4 linked regions of the Homo sapiens genome follow. The protein of the gene in region 1 interacts with the protein of each later gene in a pairwise test. Each region holds a gene or a part of one and is shown on either strand. Other genes may lie near its edges. The genes, in order: L3MBTL3, PLOD3, TRAF3IP3 and C1QTNF4.

Evidence for each region.
Region 2: the proteins of L3MBTL3 (region 1) and PLOD3 interact in binary tests that used the Homo sapiens proteins (3 or more experiments, as listed by UniProt).
Region 3: the proteins of L3MBTL3 (region 1) and TRAF3IP3 interact in binary tests that used the Homo sapiens proteins (3 or more experiments, as listed by UniProt).
Region 4: the proteins of L3MBTL3 (region 1) and C1QTNF4 interact in binary tests that used the Homo sapiens proteins (3 or more experiments, as listed by UniProt).

What each region holds. Positions count from the first base shown.
Region 1 is NC_000006.12:130,021,572-130,028,596, forward strand, and holds part of L3MBTL3 (lethal(3)malignant brain tumor-like protein 3), read left to right. Parts: exon of another isoform or gene 1-563; intron 564-655; 5' UTR 656-734; intron 735-7,025. UniProt on the Homo sapiens protein: Is a negative regulator of Notch target genes expression, required for RBPJ-mediated transcriptional repression. It recruits KDM1A to Notch-responsive elements and promotes KDM1A-mediated H3K4me demethylation.
Region 2 is NC_000007.14:101,207,572-101,214,596, reverse strand, and holds part of PLOD3 (multifunctional procollagen lysine hydroxylase and glycosyltransferase LH3 precursor), read left to right. Parts: intron 1-1,392; coding exon 1,393-1,490; intron 1,491-1,653; coding exon 1,654-1,755; intron 1,756-1,941; coding exon 1,942-2,067; intron 2,068-2,222; coding exon 2,223-2,344; intron 2,345-2,646; coding exon 2,647-2,751; intron 2,752-2,880; coding exon 2,881-3,006; intron 3,007-3,923; coding exon 3,924-4,065; intron 4,066-4,152; coding exon 4,153-4,266; intron 4,267-4,435; coding exon 4,436-4,504; intron 4,505-5,639; coding exon 5,640-5,744; intron 5,745-6,872; coding exon 6,873-7,019; intron 7,020-7,025. UniProt on the Homo sapiens protein: Multifunctional enzyme that catalyzes a series of essential post-translational modifications on Lys residues in procollagen. Plays a redundant role in catalyzing the formation of hydroxylysine residues in -Xaa-Lys-Gly- sequences in collagens.
Region 3 is NC_000001.11:209,773,041-209,780,065, forward strand, and holds part of TRAF3IP3 (TRAF3-interacting JNK-activating modulator), read left to right. Parts: intron 1-2,249; coding exon of another isoform or gene 2,250-2,308; coding exon 2,309-2,449; intron 2,450-2,533; coding exon of another isoform or gene 2,534-2,548; exon of another isoform or gene 2,549-2,558; coding exon 2,559-2,696; coding exon of another isoform or gene 2,697-3,084; intron 3,085-4,311; coding exon 4,312-4,447; intron 4,448-5,070; coding exon 5,071-5,133; intron 5,134-6,167; exon of another isoform or gene 6,168-6,274; coding exon 6,275-6,334; coding exon of another isoform or gene 6,335-6,363; exon of another isoform or gene 6,364-6,390; coding exon of another isoform or gene 6,391-6,413; exon of another isoform or gene 6,414-7,025. UniProt on the Homo sapiens protein: Adapter protein that plays essential roles in both innate and adaptive immunity. Plays a crucial role in the regulation of thymocyte development.
Region 4 is NC_000011.10:47,591,407-47,598,392, reverse strand, and holds the start of C1QTNF4 (complement C1q tumor necrosis factor-related protein 4 precursor), read left to right. Parts: upstream 1-3,981; 5' UTR 3,982-4,245; intron 4,246-6,986. UniProt on the Homo sapiens protein: May be involved in the regulation of the inflammatory network. Its role as pro- or anti-inflammatory seems to be context dependent. Seems to have some role in regulating food intake and energy balance when administered in the brain.

The sequences.
Region 1 (7,025 bases):
ATGACTTTATTTTGAATGTTAAGAAAACTGCTAAGTTGAAATGTGTTTAAAACTTTGAAGAAATGGAAAAGACCTTTAGTTGAGATTTGTCTTTTATATGAGCTGTTCATTTTACTGTCTGATAAGTGTAAGGCAATTTTATATAGTTTCTTAGCTGTATAGTTATGTATAGTCCGAGTAAGTAGTCCCTTTTGGTTCTAAGACTGTAATTTTGTTTCACTGAGTACGAAATTATTTCTGAATACTTGTATAATTTGTGATTTAAAGTCCTTAAATACATGGGCAAAAATTTTATGTAATATCTATTCTTTTTCCAGTGTGTTTTCTGTAAAATATCTTTAATTTTAAAGATAAAAGCAGTGAGGGAAATTAAAGTTGACTCAAATGATCCTTGTAACTTTCACCTGCCTGTCATATACAACAGGAGAGACGTTATTGGGTGAATTTAGGACATGGGAATGATACGAATGATTAAAATCCATTTCAACTCATCTAGAACCAGCTTATTTTATTTTAATTTACCGAGTGGCATGGTGTAAAATTATGCCTAAGTGATTCAGAATGTAAGCTTCTTAACTGGGGATGGTGGATTTGAAGGTTTCTTTTTGATGACAGTGTTTTGATTTTACCTTCCCTCTCTTTAAACCAATGCTAGAACCCTTAGGAGAAATCTTGAGAGTGGACAGCAATTGTGAAGATCGCCAGAGAGTTCTGTGTTTCATCACCGCCGAAAGGTAAGACCCACTTGTTGAAATAAATTGCTTGACATACCTGCAAATGTTAAAAAGCTGCATTTGGAGATCAGGAAGGAGAGTATGAGACTGGGTTGGCAGAAAAACATCATTTTGTGGGGCTGCTTTGAATGCATGAATGTATTGACACTAAATGTAATTGTAGTTTGGATGAAACATTAGGAAGTTAGGAGATTGTCCTGGATAATCTTTGTATTGCCTTACTTACTAGATTCTTAATTAGCATTTTAGCACCTGTTTTCTACTGAAAGTAAATGTTTTATTCTTTGGAGTTGAAAAAGTGGAAAAACTGGAATAAAATGATTGTAAATTAATATAAGTGTTACATTGTTATACAGTGATATGGAAGATTCTGGAACTCTAAATGTCTTGGGGGGCCAGTGGTAAAATTTTGTGAATGAAATTTACATTGGGTGCTTTGGGGGTATTTGTCACATAACTTCTATGGCTTAAATCCAAGATGGGCTGACTTGTGCCAAGTGCCATGTTGCAGGGTTATGAGTGAGTTTCAGTGTGTTAGCTTAGACTTGTCAACTTTTGAACATACTTCCACAGGGAATACAGCTGTTGTCTACTAAGATCTCTTTAGTAATTTTGGAGGGTGTTGGCTTCTTTCCAATACTCCAGGTCCTTCTTTTAGGGCAAAGGTCATTCTCAGGCAGAGGGGACAGCCATCTCTGAAGGTAGAACATTTCAGTACATTTTTGCTACTCCAGTGCTTTCTACTGTTTATACCTTTTTTTTTCTTCCTTTAATCTTCCCCTCTCCTTTTCTGCCTGTTTTCCTGCCCTCTCTGTCTTGAGTAATAAAGGGGTCGCTAAATCTTGTTTGGCAAAAACAAAAGAAAACCAAAATTAGCCTACCTTTTTAGAGCAGAACTAACAACCTTCATTGGGCCAGGTGTAATCTAGAAATCAAAATGACTAATTATTGATATAAAAATGATTAACAGGAGTTTATTGTCATTTGCTGCTTGTGGATCATTTTGAATTGTATAATTAGCAAAATAAGTAGATCTGGTCCATGTGGATATGCAGCAGAGACAATGGGGCAAGAACAGCTATAGGAAGGTCCTGCAGACAACTAGGGTTCAAGAAGAGTAAAATCAGTTTCCTAAGATGGTGAATTTCATGTTTAAATGTGCTGAGTTGAAGACACTGCTTATTTTTCTTTGTCTGCGGAGTCACTGTGTCTGTGGATAGAATGCTAGAATAGGAATCAGAAGACTAAATGTAATAACTAGATATATCACCTTGTATATGTCACTCTACCTCCTTCAGCCTCCATTTCCTCATCTACAGAGCGGGAACAGCAATACTTGCCTTGCATCTTTTGTTAAAAGAATCAAATAAAATCAGATTTTGAGAACCATAAAGAGTTATTCAGATGTATAGTGGTCATATCATTTTACCTTCGTCCAGCTTTATGAAGGGCTGGAGGTAGATTGTCTAAGTCAGAATATAGTGATTTAACACTTGGCTAAAACTTTTAGATTGGTTTCTGATGTGTGTATTGTATGGACTTCTCGGAATATTTCTAGGAGTATATCTTGTCTTGAGAAAAAAGTAGTTTCCCTTGTATACTATTGGCTCTTTGAGGGAAGAGACCATGCTCTAACATGGTGCGGAATACAAAACCGGAAATTTATTTATCCCAAACTAGTCATTTAATAAGTAGAAGGAGTAAATGAAAGAAATACTTTAAAATGATGCCTAATTGTGAAAATGGTAGGGTGATGAAAGTAGAAGGGTTGGTGTGAGGGGAATTAATGTACTGTAATTAATATTTTAGTTGCATGAGTCTGCTGGGAGATGAGGATGAGAAAATAGGTAACTGGAGTAGTAATGATTTAAACTAACTATAGGGGCCAGAACATGAGTCCTCCGAATGACTGAATTTAGGAAATGTCCAAGTAGGGCTTTTCCTCCTTGTTTTCTAGACCTCTTTGGCTGCAATCTAATTATAGCCAACTATGTAAAATCTAGATTAAAAAAATTGTAAGTACTATCTATTATTATTTTTGATTTGATGCTACTGAACCTGACAAAATAAACCCTGACAGGTTTTAGTTTTACTTCATCTCCACTCTTTGGAGATTATCCAATCAATGTTCTAAGAATCCAAAAACCCAATAGGAGTGGAAAAAAGAAGTATATGTCCTGTTTAATTAGTCCCTGAGTAATTGAGAGTTGATTCTTAAAGAATTTTGACTGGGTTGGTAGTTTATTTTTAAGAATTCCATATTTCAGCCAATGCTGTTTATAGTAGTGCAGTTAGGATGGGGAATTTATGAGAGAACTTACTTTATGTGGTGGGTGGGATGTACCGTTGGCATCCCAAGGATGGATAACTTGAGTGATCCCTGCGGTATTGTTTCTACTAGTTACTTAACCAGTTTTTTTCTGAGCTCTTATGGTGTTGAACACTTAAAAGACGAGATCCTTGCTCTTGAGGAGTTCTAGAGATCCTTACTCTGGGACTAGACATAATGAGCTCTTCTAATAATAGTATAACAGTTGCACATGGTACCATTAGGAAAGGATGAGGGCTCTAGCACTCTTTGGAGCTGTTGAACCAGGAAACATGGATTTCTGGGCTAACTGATGCAGGACCATGGCATATCATCCAATACACATGGCACAATATAATGCATTCCTTTTTTAGTGCTTCGCCTTCAGAAATGAGTAAGAAGCCCTTCACCCACAGTCAAGGAATGTCTAGCAAGAGTCTAGCAAGATGGATTGAGGCGATTCTTTCTTTGACCAGTGTGTTCACAAGGTAACTTTCTGGTGAAGATCTACACTATCTTCCACTGTTACCACTTGCCACTATTGAGGGATTTGTTCCTCACAAGGATTTGGGAATGCTTATAGTATAGGTAAAGATAGTGTCTTTAGAGAGAACTATTTATATGTTCATATGGGTGCACATTTATATGTGACATCTTGAAGTTCAGCGGATCCATGGAAGATATATTTTCTAAAGGGCTTCATTATCTAACAGGAATATTCTCAGATTATCTCTTTACTGTATTAAATTATTTCATTGGTGGTTGTGGATGTAAGTCAATAGTGGGAAATGATGAACGGATTTGTATTGACTGTGGCAGCTATGCAGTGGGTGGATGAAAAGAAGCACCAAGAAAGGGTATCCTTGATATATAACTAAGCTTGATTTATGAAGTAAAATTGGGAAAGACCTTTAGAAAATTCCCATTTGGGAGACAAGATAGTTTGGAGGAATGAACAAGGATCTTTGAGAGGAACTTGAGTAAAGTTAAGTTGGGTGATCTTGGATGAGGGAACTTTCCTCATAAACTGTAGTTTCTTTCTGAGTAGACTTGGAATTGATTAGTTGGATGGTGATTATAAGAATGATATGTATATTATATGTAACAGTAAAATGCCTTCTGCATTATTATTCTTTCTCCCATATATACTGTAAATCATTGTTTTGTGTTCCACCAACAGATACTTATTGAACCTCTATTTTGTCTAAATTACTGTTGTGAACTGCTTCACAAAATCAACAATTACAGCAGGGTTGAATGAATGTATGTGTTGGGGCTACAAAGACATCGAGCATCAATCCTTGGGCTCAGTATATTCCTAATCTAGTTGGGGAGATAACCCATACACATACGATGGCAATTAACAAAACAAAGCCATGGTTAAGTGTGGGTGAATGGTAGATAAATGCTGTAGACACTGTGATGGCATCTCTGGATGTGGTGGTAAATGTGTTCCTGTGATAGGACCCGGCAGATGGGGTTGCTCTTTTAAAAACCCTATGAAGTGTTGATATACAATGTTAAGTGCAATTGTATATCGAGTGCCTTCTGAAGATCAAGCATTAAGCTAGATGCTTTATATTTATTTATTCATCCAAAAAATACTTTGAGTGCTTTCTGTATGCCCAGGTACTGTTCTAGGCACTGACTATTACCTCTCATACTTTCACTAACCTTGAGCACTGGGTATTATTTTTTGTCTTTTAGAGCAAACTGGTGCTCAGAGTTACTTAGTAACTTGTTCATATCATGCAGTTTGAAAGGGGTGGAATCAGGGAAAATGATACTGGCATATGATTGATGTGTCTTTAGGTTTTTGATTTTCAAAATAGTAACACATAGAATATTTTAAAAACAACACATTTCCAGATTAAGGTATGTGCTCTTTTACATTGGTTTACTAAGATGAGCAATAATGAACAGGTATAAGAAAAATAGATGGGAAGAAAAACTGGCTTTACTTTCTTCTTTTTTTTTTCTTTTTAAAACCAAGAATTGAGAAAAGACCAATTATTGAATTATTCTGAAAAGAACACCTTGGTCTAGCCCATGGCCTTGAAATGATCACAAACTGTTGATAAAACATTACTCAGAATAGGCTTGGGAATCACTGGGCTTACTTATATAAAGATTTCATTTGTTCTCTATAGGAAGAGACCCAATAAGGTAGTAGGACTAGTTATGAAAAATATATATATAAAGCATCAATCAATGAAAGAATGGGACCTGCATCTACCAAGGCAGGCTCAGTAGGTTATGAAATTTACTCTAAAGCCAGGATTGTAAAAGGAAAGAAGAAAATTAAGAGAGACAATGGTGGGGAGAAAATGGAGGGGTGGTGTGGTAGAAATGTGTCCTAGAATCAAAGTAAAAGATGAAAACAGGGAATATGACTAAGATCCTGAGCAAGAGTGCTATAATTACTGGTGTTATACACTGTAACCAAAAGAGTATGTCCCATGTTTGCAAAATGAGGTGAAGAGTCTATTTTGACTCATCGGGTGGTTTTGTATTGCAATGGGAATTATATCTCTCTGTTATATGAGTTACGGTGGATCAGGCAGTTCTTCAGTTTGACTTAGAAGGATGCCATTGTAGGCATTGATTACAAGGTAATGGGCTGTTTCTCCTTTGTTGAAGTTCTATTTAAAACATTTTTTGAGCGTATACTATGTACCAGACCTTTTAAAGGCTGGACCATAGCTTTATATTACATAAATTTTGTGGAATTAAGCTAATTTAGTTACTAGAACATTTTGGGTATGATTGCTTAGGTACCAAAATCAGTTGATTATTTTTCTCCATCCATTACACTGTTGAACCCTGAATAGTGAATTGAAATTCCTAGGTGGTCAATCTGGTCTGGTTGTTAAATGATCTTAGTAATTCACCGTATTGGTTTGTGGTCTAATTGGGTGGACTTGAGGCTTAGCTGTTCAGTCTATTGATAAGGAGGTTGGCTACAAATGGTTATCAAGATAAGCCTGTAGACTTCTGTGAAAGAAAAATCTAGCCAAATCTAATTCATTACATGCAAAAGAGAAATCAAGTGTAAATCTTAGCTTTATGTTCTATAAAAATATGAAGCAAAATAAGAAAAAAGATACTACTTTTAGCATTAAAAATTATGAAGTAAAATAAAAAAGAACAAGAGAGTACTTTTAGTTTTTCTTTTAAAATTTTAGTTCATGCATATTTAGCATATGCATAGAAATATCTGTGTCAGGTTCTTGTTCTTTTTATGGCCCTTGAATCCCTCTAATGGGTGTAAAATTTCTATTATTACCCTTCTAGTATAGTATGTTGATGATATGCTAGCACTTTAAAAAATATGTCTGACTCAAATTGAGGTATAGTCTGCACGTTGAACATGAATTTAAAATAAAAGCATTTAATGAGAGTCTATTAAATATGCCATAGGCCCATTAATGTCAGTTTGTGATTTCACTTTCTGTGTACCTTTTTTTTTTTTTTTCTTGAAAGGCATTTTTCATTTTCTGTTCCTTCTTTAGAGGAAGTAAGTAGGTTAGGCCACAGAATCTCAAATAATTCATCCTTCTTACAGTAACACAGAAGGGCAGGAAGTTGAGATTTTGTAAAGGTTACCTTTGGTGACTACCCTTTCTTTGCACATGATCTCCATGGCAGACAAGGTAGCAAATCAGAGAGACCATTGCAACATTATAAATAGGATCATTCACATTAAAATATGACTAGCTGATAAAGGGACAGTGTTTTTGAGAAAATATCAATAAGATGGAACCGCTGTAATGACTGATTTCATGTTTAAAGGCAGCATGGATTAGTTCACACTCAGGTGTCTCCTCTGCAGGGATGGATGAGAACAGAAGACCCAACTTCTCAAGGATTTGTTCTTGATGCTGCTAAGATTTCAGTTCTCACATTGAAATAATGATCTAGAGTTTTTCCTGCCTAAAATCTATGAACTTAGGTCCTTAGGACAGATTTCACATCTCTCCACA
Region 2 (7,025 bases), on another chromosome or scaffold:
CAAAGTGCTGGGATTACAGGCATGAGCCACTGTGCCCGGTCTACTTCTGTGATTCCATTTAACAAAGGGAAGGTCCCTGGTTATCCTTCTTGTACAGATGAGGAAAACAGCTTGTGGAGGGGTTGGTGACTTGCCTCAGGGGATGGGGAGAACGGGGAGAGAGAGAGGCCAGGCACGGTGCCTCACGCCTGTAATCCCAACATTTTGGGAGGCCCAGGCAGGAGGATCACTTGAGGTCAGGAGTTTGAGACCAGCCTGGCCAACATGGCGAAAACCCGTCTCTACTAAAAAAAAGTACAAAAATGAGCTGGGCGTGGTGGCGGGTGCCTGTAATCCCAGCTATTCAGAAGGCTGAGGCAGGAGAATCACTGGAACCCGGGAGGCAGAGCTTGCAGTGAGCCGAGATTGCGCCACTGCACTCCTGCCTGGGTGACAGAGTGAGATTCCTTCTCAAAAAAAAAAAAGGCCAGGTGCGACAGCTCACATCTGTAATCCCAGCACTTTGGAAGGCTGAGGCGGGCAGATCATGAAGTCAGAAGTTTGAGACCAGCCTGGCTGACATAGTGAAACCCAGTCTCTACTAAATATACAAAAATTAGGCTGGGTGTGGTGGCTCATGCTTGTAATCCTAGCACTTTGGGAGGCCGAGGCAGGTGGATCACCTGAGGTCAGGAGTTCAAGGCCAGCCTGGTCGACATGGTGAAACCCTGTCTCTACTAAAAACACAAAAATTAGCCGGGCATGGTGGTGCGCGCCTGTAATCCTGGCTACCCGGGAGGCTGAGGAAGGAGAATCGCTTGAACCCTGGAGGTGGAAGTTGCAATGAGCCAAGATCGTGCCACTGCACTCCAGCCTGCGTGTTGGGAGTGAGACTCCATCTCAGCATAAAAAACAAAAAATACAAATACAAAAATTAGCCAGGTGTAGTGGCATGTGCCCATAGTCTCAGCTACCTGAAAGGCTGAGGCAAGAGAATCTTTTGAACTCAGGAGGCAGAGGTTGCAGTGAGCCGAGACCACGCCATTGCACTCCAGCCTGGGTGACAGAGTGAGACTCCATCTCAAAAAATAAAAATAAAAAAAAAAAAAAACAAGGAGAGAGAGAATATGAGGAGGGGTAGGGATGCTGAGGCTCCTACTGGCCTCCCGCTCAGCTCACCCTCCCCTTCCTCGCCCAGCTGCGGTGTGATCACGCAGGTAGTAGGCAGTGGAGCTCTCTGGGCCAGCAGCCTGGTCAGAACCCAAAGGTTCCTGCCCACAACGAGCCACACTCCAGGATAGCCCTGGTGTCCCTTTATTCCCTGGAGAATTTGGGACCCCATATTTAGAAGAATGTGTTGCTTGGTAGCTCCCAGAGAAAGGGGGTCTGAAGCCTGGCCTTTTTCTTCCCCAGATGAAGTGGTTTTAAAGTTTGATCGGAACCGTGTGCGTATCCGGAACGTGGCCTACGACACGCTCCCCATTGTGGTCCATGGAAACGGTCCCACTAAGGTGCCACCAGTGGTCTCAACCCCCGCCCCGCCCTGCCCCAACCCCCAGGCACCTCCAACCCTTCTGAGAAGCTGGCCCTTCCCAGCCCCCATATCAGAGGTGCCTGACCCCCACCTCCACCCCTGGAGGCCTCAGCCACTCAGCCTCAGTCTGTCCCCAACAGCTGCAGCTCAACTACCTGGGAAACTACGTCCCCAATGGCTGGACTCCTGAGGGAGGCTGTGGCTTCTGCAACCAGGACCGGAGGACACTCCCGGGGGGGCAGGTGAGGTGGGGGTGCCAGGGAGGGGCACGAGAGGGCAGCGTGCTGAGCAGGAGGTACAAGGACAGCGGACTGGGGGGCGGTGGGGGCATCGCTCCTGGGTCCCTGCACCTGTCAGGGTGGAGGTTGGGTGGGGGCAGCAGGGAAGTCCGGGCTTCTCTCTGAGTCCCTGCGTGTTGCATCTTCCAGCCTCCCCCCCGGGTGTTTCTGGCCGTGTTTGTGGAACAGCCTACTCCGTTTCTGCCCCGCTTCCTGCAGCGGCTGCTACTCCTGGACTATCCCCCCGACAGGGTCACCCTTTTCCTGCACAACAACGTGAGACTCCCCTGTTGGAGCCTCTCCTGAGGGACCCTTTCCCTGCCCTGATCAGAACTCTCGTGCCCCCACCCCCATCTCCTTCCTGCACCCCCATCCCTCAGGTGCCGCCTCCCTGCCCTCTGAGCCCATCCCCCTATGTCTTCCCCTCCCAGGAGGTCTTCCATGAACCCCACATCGCTGACTCCTGGCCGCAGCTCCAGGACCACTTCTCAGCTGTGAAGCTCGTGGGGCCGGAGGAGGCTCTGAGCCCAGGCGAGGCCAGGGACATGGCCATGTGAGCGGGTGCTTGCGGGGAGGAGAGGGTGGGATGAGGCTGTAGGGTCAGGGGTGCTGCCACCTGCTGCCTGGCCCTTGCCTCACCTGTCACCCATCCAGCCCCTCCTGGGCCTCCCCATTCGCATCCTTGCAGCCCCCATGCTGTCACTCCTGCCCTTGCCAGCTCACCCAGACAGCAGAGAGCCTGGGGAAGGAAGGATAGACACTGCCTCCCTCCTCTTCTCCTGGGGGCATGGGCCAGTTACCCCATCCACACCGCCTCCCCACCTGCCGCCGTCTCAGCTCGCCTCTCACCTCCAGGGACCTGTGTCGGCAGGACCCCGAGTGTGAGTTCTACTTCAGCCTGGACGCCGACGCTGTCCTCACCAACCTGCAGACCCTGCGTATCCTCATTGAGGAGAACAGGTGGCTTACCCCCTCTCCCCGCAGCCGGAGGGCACCCCAACAGGCCCCGGGAACCCCACTCCTGCCCTGGGCACCGGGCTCCCCAGGCCTGCTCCCGTCTGCCCAGCCCTCACCCCCACCTGTCCGCAGGAAGGTGATCGCCCCCATGCTGTCCCGCCACGGCAAGCTGTGGTCCAACTTCTGGGGCGCCCTGAGCCCCGATGAGTACTACGCCCGCTCCGAGGACTACGTGGAGCTGGTGCAGCGGAAGCGAGTGTGAGTCCCGCCAGCCTGCAGCCCCCCGCCTCCTCCGACCCGGGGCCCAGGTAGACCCAAGCCCCCTACTCTCAGGGGTTTGGAGTGGTCACCAGTCAGAGGTGCCATGAGGCTGGCTGCAGTGGCTCACACTTTTGATGCCACCACTTTGGGAGGCTGAGGTAGGAGGACTGCTTGAGCCTGGGAGTTTAAGATCAGCCTGAGCAACGTAGCAAGAGCCTATCTCTACAAAAAACTTAAAATATTAGCTGGGCACGGTGGTGCGTGCCTGTGGTCCCAGCTACTACGGAGGCTGAGGTGGGAGAATCACTTGAACTTGGGAGGTTGAGGCTGCAGTGAGCCATGTTTCCACCACTGCACTCCAGCCTGGAAACAGAGGGAGACCCTTTCTCAAGAAAATAAAAAACAAGGGCCGGCCGCGGTGGCTGACGCCTGTAATCCCAGCACTTTGGAAGGCAGAGGCAGGTGGATTACTCGAGGTCAGGAGTTCGAGACCAGCCTGGCCAACATGGTGAAACCCCATCTCTACCAAAAATACAAAAATCAGCCGGGCATGGTGGCTGGCACCTCTAATCCCAGCTATTTGGGAGGCTAAGGTGGGAGAATTGCTTGAACCTGGGAGGTGGAGGTTGCAGTGAGCCAAGATCACACCACTGCATTCCAGCCTGGGTGACAGAGCAAGACTCCGTCTCAAAAACCAAAAACAAGAAACAAAAAAGAAGTGCCACAGCTTGGGGTAGGAACTGACCGCATTTTGGGAGGTGGGGTGGTTGGGACCAGCAGTGCTTGACAAGGGACATGCAGGGGCCTTATGTTCAGGGACTGGGATACCCTGAGGGAAGAAGGACTTCCCGGGATGAGCTGGGCAGAATTTGGGGGGCTGTCCTCCCAGCTGACCGCGGTGTCGGTGCCTCCAGGGGTGTGTGGAATGTACCATACATCTCCCAGGCCTATGTGATCCGGGGTGATACCCTGCGGATGGAGCTGCCCCAGAGGGATGTGTTCTCGGGCAGTGACACAGACCCGGACATGGCCTTCTGTAAGAGCTTTCGAGACAAGGTGAGCGCGGGTGCACGGTCTGGCCTGGGGGCAGTCCCCCAGACTCCAGGCATCGCCTGCATCACGGACACCCCCACCCCACTACAGGGCATCTTCCTCCATCTGAGCAATCAGCATGAATTTGGCCGGCTCCTGGCCACTTCCAGATACGACACGGAGCACCTGCACCCCGACCTCTGGCAGATCTTCGACAACCCCGTCGTGAGTGGGGACCCCACGCCCAGAGCACACAGGTTCCCCGCCTTGTGCTAAGGAAGACACCAAACGTGATGGCTGCTGCCAGCGCAGGACACTGAGTGGGAGGGGGCGGTCCCCTGGGGGCTGGGAGCGAGGGGGGCACAGATCTGATGTGCCCCCCACCCTCTCACAGGACTGGAAGGAGCAGTACATCCACGAGAACTACAGCCGGGCCCTGGAAGGGGAAGGAATCGTGGAGCAGGTGAGCCCACGCAGCCTCCCCACCCACCCCCTGCCCTCATGGCCATCGCCTCTTGGGGGCCCCCGCCTGGATTCAAAGTTTTCACACTGAGTTCCCCAGAGATCTGAGGGTTTTCTGTTCAGACAAGATGAAGGCAGAGGCCGAACAGAAAGGACTCTTGCCCCCAAAGCCAGCATTGATCAGACAGCCTCTTCTCCTGTATATTGGGTATACTGGTGTTATGCTTGAAATCACATCTTAAAAGAAGAATGGGGCTGGGCTCAGTGGCTCATGCCTGTAATCCCAGCACTTTGGGAGGCCAAGGTGGGTGGATCGGTTGAGGCCAGAAGTCCAAGACCAGCCTGGGCAACATAGCGAGAATCTGTCTCTACAACAACAACAAAAAAATTAAATAAGAAATGAGGCCAGGAGTGGTGCTCATGCTTGTAATCCCAGTACATTGAGAGGCCGAGGCAGGCAGATCACCTGAGGTCAGGAGTTCGAGACCAGCCTGGCCAACATGGCAAATCCTGTCTCTACCAAAAAAAAAAAAAAAAAAAACACAAAAATTAGTCAGGTGTGATGGCGTGCACCTGTAGTCCCAGCTACTCGGGAGGCTGAGGTGGGAGAATCGCTTGAACCTGGGAGGCAGAGGTTGCAGTGAGCCAAGATCACGCCACTGCACTCCACCTTGGGTGACACAGCGAGACCCTGTCTCAAAAAAAAAAGAAAAGAAAAAATTAGCTTGGCATGGTGGCATGTGCCTGTAGTTCCAGCTACTTGGGAGTCTGAGGCGGGAGGATCGCTTGAGCCCAGAAGGTCGAGGCTGTAGTGAGCTATGATTGTGCCACTGCACTCCAGCCTGGTTGACAGAGCAATACCCTATCTCAAAAAAAAAAAAAAGAGGTATGCACTGTTACGGAAGTTTGGAAACCACTGTCCCAGCACGAGGGGCTCCAGGACCCTCTGCCACCTCTCCTGTGCCAGAAACCGGTCCTCAGCCTTGCCACTCCCTCAGCCCCTACCTGGCGGGTCCCCGGCTGCTCTCACAAAGCCTTCCCTGCTCCTCCCTGCCCCTTCCCATTCTGCCTGCTGCCTGTCCCCTTCCCCGTTCTGCGGCGTCAGCTAGCCCTGTTCTCCCTCGCCCCATCCTCAGCCATGCCCGGACGTGTACTGGTTCCCACTGCTGTCAGAACAAATGTGTGATGAGCTGGTGGCAGAGATGGAGCACTACGGCCAGTGGTCAGGCGGCCGGCATGAGGTAAGGGCCTGGGCGAGGAGGGCAGAGGCCTTCCCAGAGGAGGAGGTGCAGGATCTGGTAAACAAACAATGGAATCAGGAAAATGGGAGCAAAGAGGGGTTCCCAGGGGGGAGGCAGACCCTGGGGTCACAACTGCATTCATTCATGTATTCAAGAAATATTTACTGCTGGGCACAGTGGCTCATGCCTGTAATCCTAGCACTTTGGGAGGCTGAGGCGGGAGGATTGCTCGAGCAGGGGGAGTTTGAGGCCAGCCTGGGCAACATAGCGAGACCCTGTCTCTACAAAAAATTTAAAAATTAGCCGAGTTTGGGCCAGGTGCGGTGGCTCACGCCTGTAATCCCAGCACTTTGGGAGGCCGAGGCAGGTGGATCACCTGGGGTCAGGAGTTCGAGACCAGCCTGACCAACATGGAGAAACCCCATCTCTACTAAAAACACAAAATTAGCCGGGCATGGTGGCGGGCGCCTGTAGTCCCAGCTACTCGGGAGCTGAGGTAGAATTGCTTGAACCCGGGAGGCAGAGGTTGCAGTGAGCCAAGATTGAACTCCAGGCTGGGCAACAAGAGTGAAACTCCATCTCAGAAAAACCAACAAATTAGCCGGGCATGGTGGCATGTCCCAGCTATTCAGGAGGCTGAGGCAGAAGGATCACTTGAGCCCCAGAGTTAGAGGCTGCAGTGAGCTATGATCATGCCGCAGTACTCCAGCCTGGGTGACAGAGCAAGACTCTGTCTCTAAAAAAAGAGAAAAGGAAATCATTCCTGGGCCACTGTCCTAGACTGCACTGCAGGAATGCCTCATGCCGGTCGAGCTCTGCCCTGCTGTGAGCAGCAGCCACCACACAGCTTCTAAGGCTGCGATGAGCAGCCTGGGTGCAATAGAAGCCACGGGGAAGCCTTGACCCAGACTTGGGAGGAGTAGGGAGCTTCACAGGACAGGTGACATCTTAGCTGAGACTTGAAGGGCCGGGAGCAGTGAGTCAGGCCGAGAAGTAGCAAAGAAGACTGTTCTGCACAGAGGAACACAGGTGTGAAGGCTGGAGGACGGGAGGAAGGAGGCTGGACTGCCCTGGGGTGGGGAGCGCCATGGCTGGAGGGGCGGGTGGCTCAGTGCCCGCCGCCCCCAGGATTCAAGGCTGGCTGGAGGCTACGAGAATGTGCCCACCGTGGACATCCACATGAAGCAGGTGGGGTACGAGGACCAGTGGCTGCAGCTGCTGCGGACGTATGTGGGCCCCATGACCGAGAGCCTGTTTCCCGGTTACCACACCAAGGTGCGC
Region 3 (7,025 bases), on another chromosome or scaffold:
TCCATCTCAGGAATCTAGAATTAAATGAGAAGAATGTTTTTGAACCTCAATCTTACTTTCGAGAAACACCACCAGATAGAGAATAACACACCCATTCCTACTTACCCATTTCTGGCTTGGCCATTTACACTTTAGTCTCTAATTCACTAGATCACTGTCTCCATCCTTCTTCCTCTCCCTTTCTCCCAGTATCCTTCTCTTTGCACCCTGGAGGAATCCCAGCACTAACCAGTTTGTCAGCTCCAGGGGAACCTTGAGAATACCTGACACTGTAGGGGAAGGCCCTTGGTAAAGACTCACATCACCCAGACAGCCCTTTACGCATCCTAATCTTTGAACAGATGAGTTAGATGTTATAATGAAGTCTTACAAAATTATTTTCATTCCATGGGTAACTTTTTTCTGTTTTTTCTAGCAACCCCTGGAAGAATGTAAAAGCTCTTTTACTTGGCTCTTCTGTAACACCATTTTCCAGCATTAGTAATCTCTTGATTGGCCTAATCTTGGTTTATAAGAGATAGAAAGAAATCAGCTTTCACATTTGAGAAGTGATGGATACCTGACAGGTGGGAAGATATCAAATCAGAGAATGGGGTGAAACAGGCAGAATTCTCCCATCTGGAGTTAGAGAGAGAAGACAGTCCTGGCCACATTGATGGCGTCTTACAGGGGAAGAGAGTTTATGGAGTCTATAAGTTTCTTGGTCCACAACTTTCATTTTTTCAGTATAACTTGCTTTGTCAGGACTAAATAATGCCAACCAAGTTCACAGGAGACTAATATATAATCCAGAATGCCAGTCTATTCATTTTCAATAGGGAATAACACATAACCAGTGCCCAGCATGGATGGTCATTGGATGTCCAATAACTGGGACATCCCCTACATATGACCTCAACCAGGTTAATTCCTGGATCTGGTTTTTAATGAAAGTTCCAAAACTATAAGACCCACTCAAATTTAAATCCAAAATTTCAGACAATTCCAAAGCTAAATGGAAATGATTTCATATTGATCCCTAAATTGTTGTCATCTGGTCTACTGCTTACACAGTAGGTAATCCAGAATTGACAATAAAATCTGCCTGCCTTCTCCGAAATCACAGGGCATAAAGATGAAAGAAAGGGAGAAGGCAAGACCCCCAGTGAATTTGCAAAGCTGCGCTTGTGTCTCCTTAATCCTGCAGCCAGGAGGAATTTTATAATGCAAATGTATTAATTTTAAAACATGAAGTTCATTAGGCATTGTAAAGAAGCTACAATGATTTTTTTTTAAAGCAGCAGCAGTATGCTCCCTCCCTGAAGGAGTTTACAATCCAGTATGAAAGACAGATGAGTCAATAGAGTAGAATAATAGAGGCATGCAGGGGATACTATGTGAACACCATGAACCCTAAGAAAAGCTACCTAATCCATAAGACATTGTGGGATGGGGGTAGTTGGTCAATTTATCAGAACTGATGATACTGGACTGAATCTTGAGTATTAGTAGAAGTTAACTGGCTGTAGGCAGAAGAAGCTACATGGGTAAAGGCAGAGCCCCAAAAAACAGAGTGCTGGGGGATCTGCAAACATCTCAGCTTAGGTGGAAGTAGCATGGGATGAAAGTCTAGGCGTGTAAGAGGAGCCATGACAAGGAGTTTGGATGTGATTCTTAGTATGCTGAGAATCCATGGAGAGATTTATACAGGAAGTGGCAAGATCAGATTTGCATTTTAGAAAGAACCCTCTAAATGCAGAACTGAAAAGGGACTGAAGGGAGGCAAGATTTGAAGAAAGGGAGGCTGTTGCATTAATCCACATAACACTACTACTAGAGCCTGAACTAAGGAAGCAGCAGTAGGGATAGAGAGGAGACAGATATGAGCTGTTAAGGAAATTGTCAAGGCTCAATGACCAACTGATTAGAGGGGGAGGAAGTGAGAGAGAAAATGAAGATTGACTCCCTGGTTTAGGGTTTGGAAAAGCCTGGATGGATGATGATTCTGGTCACTGAGATAGGAACCCCAAGAAAAAAGAACATGTTTAGAAAGATGAGTCCTGTTTAGACATCTTGGATTCCAAGAGCTTGCAGAAGGCCTCAGATATAATGCCCAGGAAGCCTAGGGCACTGTTTATTATGCCCTCCACTCATCTCTCATTGCCTGAGGGACTCTTCTTGCTAGCTCTACCCTAAAAGAAATGGCTCACTAGATTACTGGTATCTCTGCCTGGGGGAAGAACCAACTTCTTTTCATTTCTGTATCCCAGCTCAGGATTTGGCACACAGAAGCTCAATGTGTATTTGTTGAATTGCATCAAATTTACAGAAATACTCCCCTTGGGGAATGAAAAAAGTACTACTGGAGATGGAAGACCAGAAAAACAGCTATGAGCAGAAGGCCAAGGAGTCACTGCAGAAAGTGCTGGAGGAGAAAATGAATGCAGAGCAGCAACTACAGAGCACACAGGTATGGGGATGCCACATAGACATGGGGCTGGGGACTCCAGGCAGCTTGGGGAACAAGGGGAGCCAGCTGCACAACTCCCTGGAGCCCTCTCCTCTCTGATCTCCCTCAGCGATCCCTGGCCCTGGCAGAGCAGAAGTGTGAAGAGTGGAGGAGCCAGTATGAGGCTCTGAAGGAGGACTGGAGGACCCTTGGGACCCAGCACAGGGAGCTGGAGAGCCAACTCCACGTGCTTCAGTCCAAACTGCAGGTACCAGGCACTGGGGGTGGGGAGGGAAGACAGGGTATGGGGAGGAGGGATGGTGATGAAAGAAGCTGTTCTGGATTAGGGACTCCAAAGGCAGCTGACAGCATCTGGCTTTCAGTTCCTCAGTCACCACTACTTTGTACCAAATTCACTGTTTTGGCTCTGAAATCTAATTTTGAGTTTAGCAAGGATGTCTGCATTGCTCATGCAAATGAACTAAGCGTTCATTGGAATGACACCATCACCACCCAAATGAAAAGAACTGGCTGGAATATTCATCAGCCTACTAATGTCATCTCCCAACCCACTCTCCAAACTCCATCCCAAAAAAGCATCCAGTTCAGAATTGCCCACTGTTGGCAAAGAAAGAATGTCACTAATTTATTTACAGGTGAGTATTAACACTTTCTGCCAATGTGTATTTTAAGCAATTACATTTAGCAATTACAATTAGATTCTTGGCATCCTCAAGGGTTCCATCATCTTCAATCTGTCCTAAGCCTCAGTTTCCCCATCTCTAAAATGAGGATAATAGTACCTACATCATAAGGTGGTTCTGAGTATTAAGTAAGATGATCCATGTAAAGCACTTAGCACAATGCCTGGCACACAAAAACACTCAGTAAATATTAGCTATTATTTTGCATAGATTTATTTACCTGGTTTGGAATTTTGAGGATCCACCTCAAAAGCTGATCTTTGTAATTTTCCTGAAGCAGGGCTCAGAACAGCCCACTTGATAAGAGACAGAGTATGTGAGTCTTATCAAAGGAGTGAACCCAGCTGGTCACTCTGCGTGGTATCCACAGCTCAACCTTTGTTGTTTTCTTCTTCCCATCACCTATAAGGCAACTCCTATGAAGATTTTTGTGAGGGGTTTTTTAACTTTAAATCTTTGTGGAAAAAAAAAGACCCTAACCAAAAAAAAAACTGATACTGCCAGAAGTAGAAAAAAGAGAAAATGAAAACATCCAGAAAACTAATGACTTTGTATTCCTTAATTTGGTGATTTACCAAAGTGTCAAGACATGACTCCCACACCAATGACAACCACTTACATTTCCCCTAGAATGGCAGATTTTTTAACGTACTGGGTTTCCTAAAGCAATTCTTATTTTATATATTCTAATTTATGTACATGAATGTGTCACTTAGACCTGTCACTAGGGATGGTTTAGAAAATAAACTTACACTGCACATGCCTCAGTCCACTTCAAAACTACTGGCAAATGCCTGTAGTCCCAGCTACTCAGAAGGCTAAGATGGGAGGATTGCTTGAGCCCAAGAGGTCGAGGCTGCAATGTGCTATGATGGCACCACTGCACTCCAGTCTGGGTGACAAAGTGAGACCCCATCTCTAAAAATAAAAATAAATAAATAAAAGACGCGAGTTCCTTGTGAATATCAAAAGTCTAATCTGCTGTTATAAATATGAGGAACAAAGCAAAGGGAAGAAATAGGAAAAAAGAAAGACTTCTCTATTTTCTCATCTCCCTAACATTCCTTCTATCTCTAAAATTCCAGACTTTTCTACATTTTCCTCTTCCATGGTACCCGCCCCCCAACCTCCACCCCAACACTGACCTCCTTCTATATTGGCCCTTCCTCCTCCTTACAGGGAGCAGATAGCAGGGACTTACAGATGAACCAGGCCCTGCGATTTTTGGAAAATGAGCACCAGCAACTGCAGGCCAAGATTGAATGCCTGCAAGGGGACAGAGACCTGTGCAGCTTGGATACCCAGGACCTACAAGGTACTCTTCTCCTTGGAGGCCTTGAGTGCATGGCAGCCATGGCCAAGTGAGCTAAGAAAAAAGAAACTGAATTAAGAGAAAGGCTTCAGCCTTTTATTTGTTTGCTTGATTGGTTGATTGGCTTTATAATCTCATTTTACCTTGAGGGAGAGGCAGGACTGTTTTAATCATCCAAAATTGAAAATTAATTTCACTGTAGTAGATAGAGTATCTTGTTGTCTGAGCTCTCTTTTTTAGCCCATCCCTCTGGGCCAGATCACAGCTGCTCCCACATCAGTCACATATGTCAAGGCCACAGTCCTAATTTGAAAGGGAAAGGTCAGTTGAAACACAAGGCATAGAGAAAGTCTCTCAGTCACATCCTCTGTGTCCGCTGATAGAGAGGACTAGATAGTGTGTAAACACAAGCCTCAATGCAACCCAACATTGTTGATGCACAAAAACCTGAGGTACTTGGCTTCTGGTTTACCTCTTCAGAACTGGGACACGAAGATAGAGCAACTTCCAATAGACACACGTTAAAGACCATGACAAGACAGCATCTATTACTAATTTCCATCCTAAGTACTGAGTTCATTAAGTCTTGGGTTCCTTTATTTTGGCTTGCATTATTGCATTTTCAGATCAACTAAAAAGGTCAGAGGCAGAGAAACTCACCCTGGTGACCAGAGTACAGCAGTTGCAGGGTAAGTTCGCTTTCCAGATTCTGAAAGTCCACAGGGTTTTCCTGGGGTCCTGGCCCACAAAAGGCACCCAGAGTAGGGACTAAGGGCCCAGTCTTTGGCATATGCTCTAACTCTGTGCACTTTCAGACCCTCTTCTTGTAAAGTGAGGTCATTTACATAGCTCTCCATAAATTATGTGTTAGCCTCTGTTCTTTTTTTTCTACTGTTCTCCTTCCATGCCAATGACACCACTTACATTTCCCCTAGAACTGCAGATTTTTTTTAAATACTGGGTTTCCTAAAGCAGTTCTTATTTTATATATTCTAATTTATGTACATGAATGTGTCACATAGACCTGTCATTAGAGATGGTTTAGAAAATAAGCTTACACTATACGTGCCTCAATCCACTTCAAAACTACATATTGGGCCCAAAGAGGAAAAGGGACTTCTCAGAAGAAAAGCAGTTTCTGAAAAGCTGGAGAACCTGACTCAATTAATACAGCTGCTGGTTGCCCACCACTTTAACCTCTGACACCTGATAGAGAAGCTTCATGAAAGCAGCAATGATTATTAAGAGAGCAAAGCAACCACAGGGAAAAGGGAAAATCTTCAAGCAAAGACTTGAAGATAGAGACATGGTAGGGGGAGATATAAGGATGCTATATTCATAGCAAAGTACCACAGACTGGGTGCCTTGAAGAACAGAAATGTATTGTCTCACAGTTCTGGAGACTAGAAATCCAAGATGTCAGCAGGGTTGTTTCCTTCTGAGGGCGTTTAGGGAAAGATCTATCCCAGGGCTCTTTCCTTGGCTTTGTAGATGGCCGTCTTCTCTCTGTGTCTCTTCACATTGTCTTTCCCATGAACATATCTGTGTCCATATTTCCCCTTCTTATAAGGACACCAGTGATATTAGATTGGGGCCCACCTGAATGACCCCATTTTAACTTGATTATCTTTTAAAGAATCTATCTCCAAATAAGGTCATTATTTAAGGTACTGAGGGTTAGGACTTCAACATATATATTCTGGGGGACAAAATTCAACACACAGCAGATGGGAACATATTTAATAACCAAGGTTCTAAGCAAAGTTCTGAAAAGAAAACTTTTTGTAGTAAATATGCTAGCATAGACAAGTTCCTTGTGTTTTCCAACAGGTTTGCTTCAAAATCAATCCTTACAGCTTCAAGAACAGGAGAAACTCTTAACAAAGAAAGGTCAGCAAATTTATTACCACAAATTCTAAGATATTGCTCTTCTCTTACCTGCCTAGAGGCAGCGGGATGGACTACATGACCTCCTGGAGTCCCAGCCAGTTCTGGGAGTCTGTTAAGTCCGGGATGTGTGGGAGCTTTTTAAGGACTGATCATTGGCTCTGAGGACACTTCAACTAGTTAGCCTTCTATCTTGAGGTATATAAACTGTGAAAAAGGGTTTCTATTCTCTCTGAAAGCACATGTCTGTGTTGAACATTTCAATAAATTTATTTTGAACTCAGGATTTCATGTCAATTTTTACACACTTGATTTTCCAAATCACATCCAACTCCCCAGCCCCAAACCACATAGCAGTCCAGAGTCAACTCACTGTTAGCCCTAGAGAGTCTACTGTCCATGTTTCCTGAGAATTCACTGTGTATACAGAGGGGCAATAGCTCCTCACCTGTCCACTACACACGACCTTTTGTTTTCTCTTCACAATCATTGGGCATAATATAATAGATAAGGCAGAAATTTTTATGCTCACAGAGTATGGATAAGAACATGAAAGTCTATGGTGACACAAACTAACAACACAGCTATAACAACAATCCAAAACTTCTGACTCCTAGTCCATGCTCTTTTCACCAAGACTAAGACTGCAGGGTGGCTAAAAAACCATCTTTAACCATATGAAGATAAATTTTAG
Region 4 (6,986 bases), on another chromosome or scaffold:
ACACCTGTAATCCCAGCACTTTGGGGGGCCAAGATGGGTGGATCACGAGGTCAGGAGATCGAGACCATCCTGGCTAACACAGTGAAACCCCATCTCTACTAAAAATACAAAAAAAAAAATTAGCCGGGCGTGGTGGCGGGCGCCTGTAGTCCCAGCTACTCAGGAGGCTGAGGCAGCAGAATGGCGTGAACCCGGGAGGCGGAGCTTGCGGTGAGCCAAGATCGCGCCACCGCACTCCAGCCTGGGCGACTGAGCGAGACTCCGTCTCAAAAAAAAAAAAAAAAGCGCACAGATACCAGTGGGTTTTCACCATGGAGAACTTAACTCTGCTGGAGTCTCTCTGAGTCTGAAACATGACCTGGAATTGGGAATTGGAATGCTCCCATCGAGGGACCAGAAAGCTGGGGTATTTACCCCTAACTCTGGACCATTGGCTGATGGTTGCTCTGGGGGTATTAACTCTACAGCCCTTTGGGCCTGCCCCACACTAACTCCCATAGCTGAAAATGCCCTCAGGAGGGACACAGGAAGTAGGCGCCTGGTCAGGAACTGTCTGTGGGTGCCCTCCTGGTAGGCCTGGAGGTGTGGGTGGGCCACTGACAGCATCTACTACACTCAGTGAAAGGAACCTGCTATTAAAATTATTGTTGTTGGCTGGGCACCGTGGCTCACGCCTGTAATCCCAGCATTTTGGGAGGCCGAGGCAGGTGGATTACTTGAGGTCAGGAGTTCAAGACCAGCCTGGCCAACGCCATCTCTACTAAAAATACAAAAATTAGCCTGGTGTGGTGGCATACGCCTGTAATCCCAGCTACTCAGGAGGCTGAGGCAGGAGAATCACTTGAACCCAGGAGGCGGAGGTTGCAGTGAGCCGAGATCGCACCATTGCATTCCAGCTTGGGTGACAAGAGTGAAACTCCATTTCAAAAAATAAAAATAAATAAAAATTATTGTTGTTTATTAGCTGCCACGTGGTGGCAGGCTGACGGGGGAGGATCACTTAAGCCCAGGCTGCAATGAGCCAAGATCGTGCCACTGCACTCCAGCCTGGGTGACAGAGTAAGAACCTATCTCAGCCAGGCGCAGTGGCTCACTCCTGAAATCCCAGCATTTTGGGAGGCTGAGGCGGGCGGATCACCTGAGGTCAGGAGTTTGAGAACAGCCTGACCAACATGCAGAAACTCCATCTCTACTAAGAATACAAAATTAGCCAGGGTGGTGGTGCATACCTGTAATCCCAGCTACTCAGGAGGCTGAGGCAGGAGAATCACTTGAACCTGGGAGCGGGAGGTTGCGGTGAGCCAAGATTGCTCCATTGCACGCCAGCCTGGGCAACAAGAGCAAAACTCCATCTCAAGAAAAGAAAAAAGAACCCGTCTCAATTTATATATATTTTAATGTTAATTTTTTTAACTTTTTTTTTAAGTGATGGGGACAGCTGGGCGCGGTGGCTCACGCCTGTAATCCCAGCACTTTGAGAGGCCAAGGCGGGCGGATCACGAGGTCAGGAGTTCCAAGACCAGCCTGACCAACATGGTGAAACCCCGTCTCTACTAAAAATACAAAATATTAGTCGGACATGGTGGCGCGCTCCTGTAATCCCAGGTACTCAGGAGGCTGAGGCAGGAGAATCGCTTGAACCCGGGAGGCGGAGGTTGCAGTGAGCCAAGATCGCAGCATTGCACTCCAGCCTGGGCAACAGAGCGAGAGTCTGTCTCAGAAAAAAAAAAAAAAAAGAGAGAGAGAGATGGGGTCTCACTCTGTTGCCCAGAGTGGTCTCAAACTTCTGAGCTCAAGCGATCTTCCCACCTTGGCCTCCCAAAGTGCTAATATCATAGGCGTAAGCCACCATGCCCAGCCATACCCGTCTCAATTAAAAAATAAATAAAATAATTGTTGTTTAAGACCAGCCTGGGCAACAGAGTGAGACCTCGTCTCTACAAAAAATTTTAAAAAAAATTAGCCAGGCATGGTGACCTGCACCTGTAGTCCCAGCTACCTGGGAGGCTGAGGTGGGAGAATCACTTGAGCCCGCAAGGTCAAAGCTGCAGTGAGCCAAGATCATACCATTGCACTCCAGCCCAGGTGACACAGCAAGACCCTCTCTCAAAAATAAATAAAATTGTGGCTGCAAAACAAGAGAGGAGGGAGCAGGGACTATAACCAGCCTAGGGCTTTTCTCTGGATCCTGCTGCCACCTCTTCTTAACTCCCATTCTGGAGCCCACCCATCTGCCTTACACCCACCAGCTCATGGCATCATCTTTCTCTATATCCCTTTCCCAGTGGCTTCCTCCCTATCCCAGTCCCCTGATGCAAATCCTGATGTCATCTGCCCCAGCCACCCATCTCTACCTCAACCCTCACTTCTCTGGTGAGAACTCTTGTGGATCCAGGGAGTGTCAAATCCCAGCCTGAACCAAACCTCAACTGAGATTATATTATCCTATAATATACCTTCTCCCCTCCCCTCCCCTCCCACCATTGGAATCACCCTCAGGAGAGCAGCTCCACTCTTCTCATCCAGAAGGGGCCCATGGCCCTAAGAAGGGCCATAGATTGCCATAGGTTGGCTTTTGGCATCCCCCAGCTCTCCTTCGACATCCCTGTGTGGCTCATCCCACCCTTACCCTGCTTCTTGTCCTCCCCACAGTCCTGTGGCCCAAGCTTTTCAAGTTGGTGAAAGAGACAGTTGTGATCTGACAAGGGCTAGACAGGTGCTTCACCCTCTGTCACCAAATACCCTCATTATCCAGCCCAAAACACCTCCATTCATTCCTTTCTATTCTGGCACATATTCGTTAATTCATTCCATCATTCACCTAACACCCTTGAAGCAGAGCCAATCACCTCTACCAACATCTTCCTAGAGACAAATAGATTAACTGGGGTGGGGTAAACTTTGAGAGCTCCAAAAGGAAAGCTCCAGAGGACGGGGGTTCTGCAGGGGTCCAGGCCTCTCAGGGACCACAGAGCAGACCTGCAGCAGAGGCAGAATTAGAGCCCATGGCTCTGGAGTCAACCAGGGCCAGGCAGAGGGCACCAGCTCTTGGCTGCTGAAAGTAGAGCTCTTCAAAAGTCATCCACTCAGTCAGCATCTACTGAGTGCCAGGCAGTGTCGTCACCTCTACAGCCGTCAGGGGAGAGAACAGCAGCCTAGAGAAAGGGAGTCTGAGCCCCCATCCCACGGGCTCGAAGCCCAGAGTAGAGGCCAGCACTAGTGCCTCTGGTGAGTATTACCATGGGAAGACCGCTGTTCCCAGCCCGGGTGCCCTGCTGGACTCTTGCTAGCCTGGCCCCAGCGAGGCAGGGCATCAGTTTCCCTCTCCAGAGGCCTTTCTTCCCCACCTATTGCCCTCTCAATCCTGTCCCTTCTTGCAGGAGCAACCTTCCCAGCAGAAAATTCCATTCTGCCCCAAGGACTCTCCTCCTTACTGCCCCTCACCCCGGGGAACGCAGGCTGCCCCTCTGATGCCTGCAGACTCCCTTCTCCCTCTTTCCTAACCGACCGTGGGCATTTTCCAATTTGGAGGTGAGGAGGAAAAACTAGGTTATTTTCAGCTCTTCCTTTACTGGCAACATTGACCCATTTATCCTTCTCTTCCTTCAGACCTCTCCCCCAAGGCCACTTAGCTTGGACATCTGTCCCAGCCAAAATCTCACCTTCCACTGTCCTTGCAGCCCAAAGGCTAGTCCAGCCTCTGAGTCCAGCTCTAGCCCTCTCTCCCCACACTAGGAAGGAAGCTGGACTGTAGAGCGCTCTGGGCCACCCCGCGTTAGCTGCTGCCTCTGGCCTCAGTTTCCCCAACTGCTCAGATTAATGATGCCTGCTCTCTAGACCCAGAGGACGAAGCTCTAAGGAGGTCACAGATGAGGAAGGGTCCAGTGCTCGGCGCAGACTCCGTGCGGAGCCCCTAGGCCCCGCAGCTCGCCCCTCCCTCTCCCCTACTCCCCTCCTCTCCCCCTCCCGTCTCTCCCCCGCCTCTTCGCTCTCGCTCGGCTCCCTCTCTAGCTGACCTTCCCTTTCCCTCACGCCTCCCCACGCCCGGCCCCTGGCCCCAGCACCCTGTCCGCTGCCGCCTCAGAGCCGGGAAAAGCAGCCGGAGCCCCCGCCGCCCCTGCCGCAGCGCGGGCGGTCAGCGCGCAGCCCGGCACCCGCAGCCTGCAGCCTGCAGCCCGCAGCCCGCAGCCCGGAGCCAGATCGCGGGCTCAGACCGAACCCGACTCGACCGCCGCCCCCAGCCAGGTGAGGGCAGCTGAGGGGAGGCAGGGAGCCGAGGTTCCCCCTTTACTGGAAGCGAGGGCTGGGGAGGCGCGGGGAAATTGGGTCCTTTTTCCTTGAAAGGAGGACCTGGGAGCCTTTTCGTGAAACAGGCACAAGGGCTTTCATTCCAAAGGGATGGATGGATGGAGGGAAGGTCTCGGGGGAGAGGGATTGGTTTTTGTTTTTTAAAAATAAGGATTAATTGGCTTCTGTGAAAGTGGGACTTCTTGGAAGGATGAGGGGCTTTCAAGGTAGGTTGGGGAGGGGGCTCTGGCAGGGCTTGAGGGAAGGGTTAACTGGTGAGTGGCAGGGCAAGGGGGAACTCTGCGATCCCCTCAGCCTGACATCGCTGCACCTCCCGCCTTGGCTCCGGGGCTCTGGGTCTCTCCAGCTCTGTGTCCCAGTTTTTCTCTTTGAAGATGACTATTTTGAACCCCACCTGGACAGAGCCAGGAACAGCCATTTCCTTCCCTGGAGCTATGACACCCACCTGACACACCCTCCCACACCTCTGACCTGCTCAGGGAAGGGGGTTCAGGGAAGGACGAGGATCCAGGGATCTGGGAATTGGGCAGTGTGGGTGAAACGGAGGCTGGGTACTGGGTGCACAGGAAGACCCTTGGCACTGGTGGGGTGCACCAGCCTTGGTCAGGAGGTTGCTGGGCAGCTGCTTCTGGGGCAGGACCCACTAGGAAAGCAGCGGTATGGAAAAGCTGAGCTGTTTTCCGTGTTCCCAGAAGACAAAACACTAGAGAATGTGTTTGCTTGCTTTTGTTTGGTTTTGCTTTCTGTCTTCCTCACCCTGGATCCCAAGACTCATTCCTCTGATCTCCTCTCCTAGTTTTGCAAAAAGGTAAACTGAGGCACAGAACAAATTGGCTGGACATACCTGTGTCTAGGAGGGAAGAGTGACAGGAAGGCATACGGAATTTGAGTCAAAAAACCTCAGTGCTCCATGGGTGACCTTGGGCCAAAATGCTTTCCCTTGTTGGGCCTCAGCTTTCTCATCTATAAAATGGGAGACGGCCCACCTGTCTTGTAGGTTTGCCAAGACCATGTGTCTAAAAGAACTTTGTAAAAGGGAATGCACTGGACACTTGTGAGGTGCCATCTTCACCACTGTGGATGGCCCCTTCCCTCCTCCCTGTCCTAACCAAGGGACACCTAACTAATCCATAGGACACCTTTGTGAGAATTACAAAAAGCACCTCCTCTGGAAGGAGACAGCATTCAGTTGGCTAGCAACTTGGGGTCTTTAGTATGAGAATGAGAAGGTGGCATACTTTACGCCAGGTGCTGCTCTAACATGTGGAGTGTGAGCTAGATTCTAGCTGGGACGTTCTGCACATCTACACCTGACAACCCTTCTCAGCAGGTCCCTGCTGTCTCTAAGAGACACAGAGCTACACATACAGGGCATTTTCTAAAGCAGCCCACATCCCAGGCTGTCTCCAGCTCATTTCTTTCCTGTTTTGTTTCCACATCAGGGCTTTTGGGTATTCAAGCCCCAAAGCACGTGCCCTACTAGGAAGCAGGATGGAATCCCTACATCAGAGAGTGACTCCTTTGAGTTAAGCAGTGCCTTCACCAAGCTCTCAGGGGTAGGAGTGACTGAGTCCCTAAACCCTTACGTCAAGAACTGGACCAGATCACTTTTGTCAGGGCAACCGACAGAAGCATCTGCACACCTCAGCACTGCCGTTGACAAACCATGTTCACACCTATCTCAGCACACCCCCACAGCAAGCCTGTGTGTGAGGTCTCTTCCCCATTTACATGGAGGAAGCCATGCCCAGAGAAGTTAGGGAACCTGCCCAAGGTTTCACAGTGTGAGTGGTAGAGCCAGGACCTGAACCCAGATCTGGCTATCTGTCCTCTCCAATCCATCACTCCCAAGGAACAAAGCTGCTGACTTCACAGCCTTGCCAAAGCCCTGCTGGAATTGTTGCTGTCCCTGTCCATCCCCAGTAGCCCCTGGCTCGCCACTCCTTCTTCTGAGTAACCAGCCTCCAAGCAAAGAGAAAGGAGTCACCTTCTCTTTTACTCTGATTTCAAGGGGGAGGAAGCTACCTCAAAGCCCAACTGTTCTCGCCTCCTCTGTGCAGGAAGGGCCCCTGGTGAGGCCAGGAAAGGGGTCAGGGAGCAGCGATTTCCTTTCCTGCTCAGATGGGGCTTAAACAGTAACGGTCATGCAGAGCGTTGACACAGAGAGCCAGTGCCTGCGTGAGTGGCAGACCAAGGACCATAAAATAACCACAGGAAAATGCAGCCAACTGGAGCTGAGGGGAACTCAGAGACTCCCCTGAATCCCCCGGGTTACCAGGGCCCCTGAGTGTCAAATGGGAGGTGTAGGGGCAAGCCCAGCAGACAGGGCTGTAGGCCTCTTTAACCAGAGTGTTTCTGCTAGTCTGTGTTCAAGCTTTCACTTAAGAAAGGGGTTTCGGCCGGGCGCGGTGGCTCACGCCTGTAATCCCAGCACTTTGGGAGGCCGAGGCAGGCGGATCACAAGGTCAAGAGATCAAGACCATCCTGGCCAACATGGTGAAACCCTGTCTCTACTAAAAATACAAAAATTAGCTGGGTGTGCTGGGTGCAAGCCTGTAGTCCCAGCTACTTGGGAGGCTGAGGCGGGAGAATCGCTTGAACCTGGGAGGTGGAGGCTGCAGTGAGCCGAGATCAAGCCACTGCACTCCAGCCTGGCGACACAGCCAGACTCCGTCTCA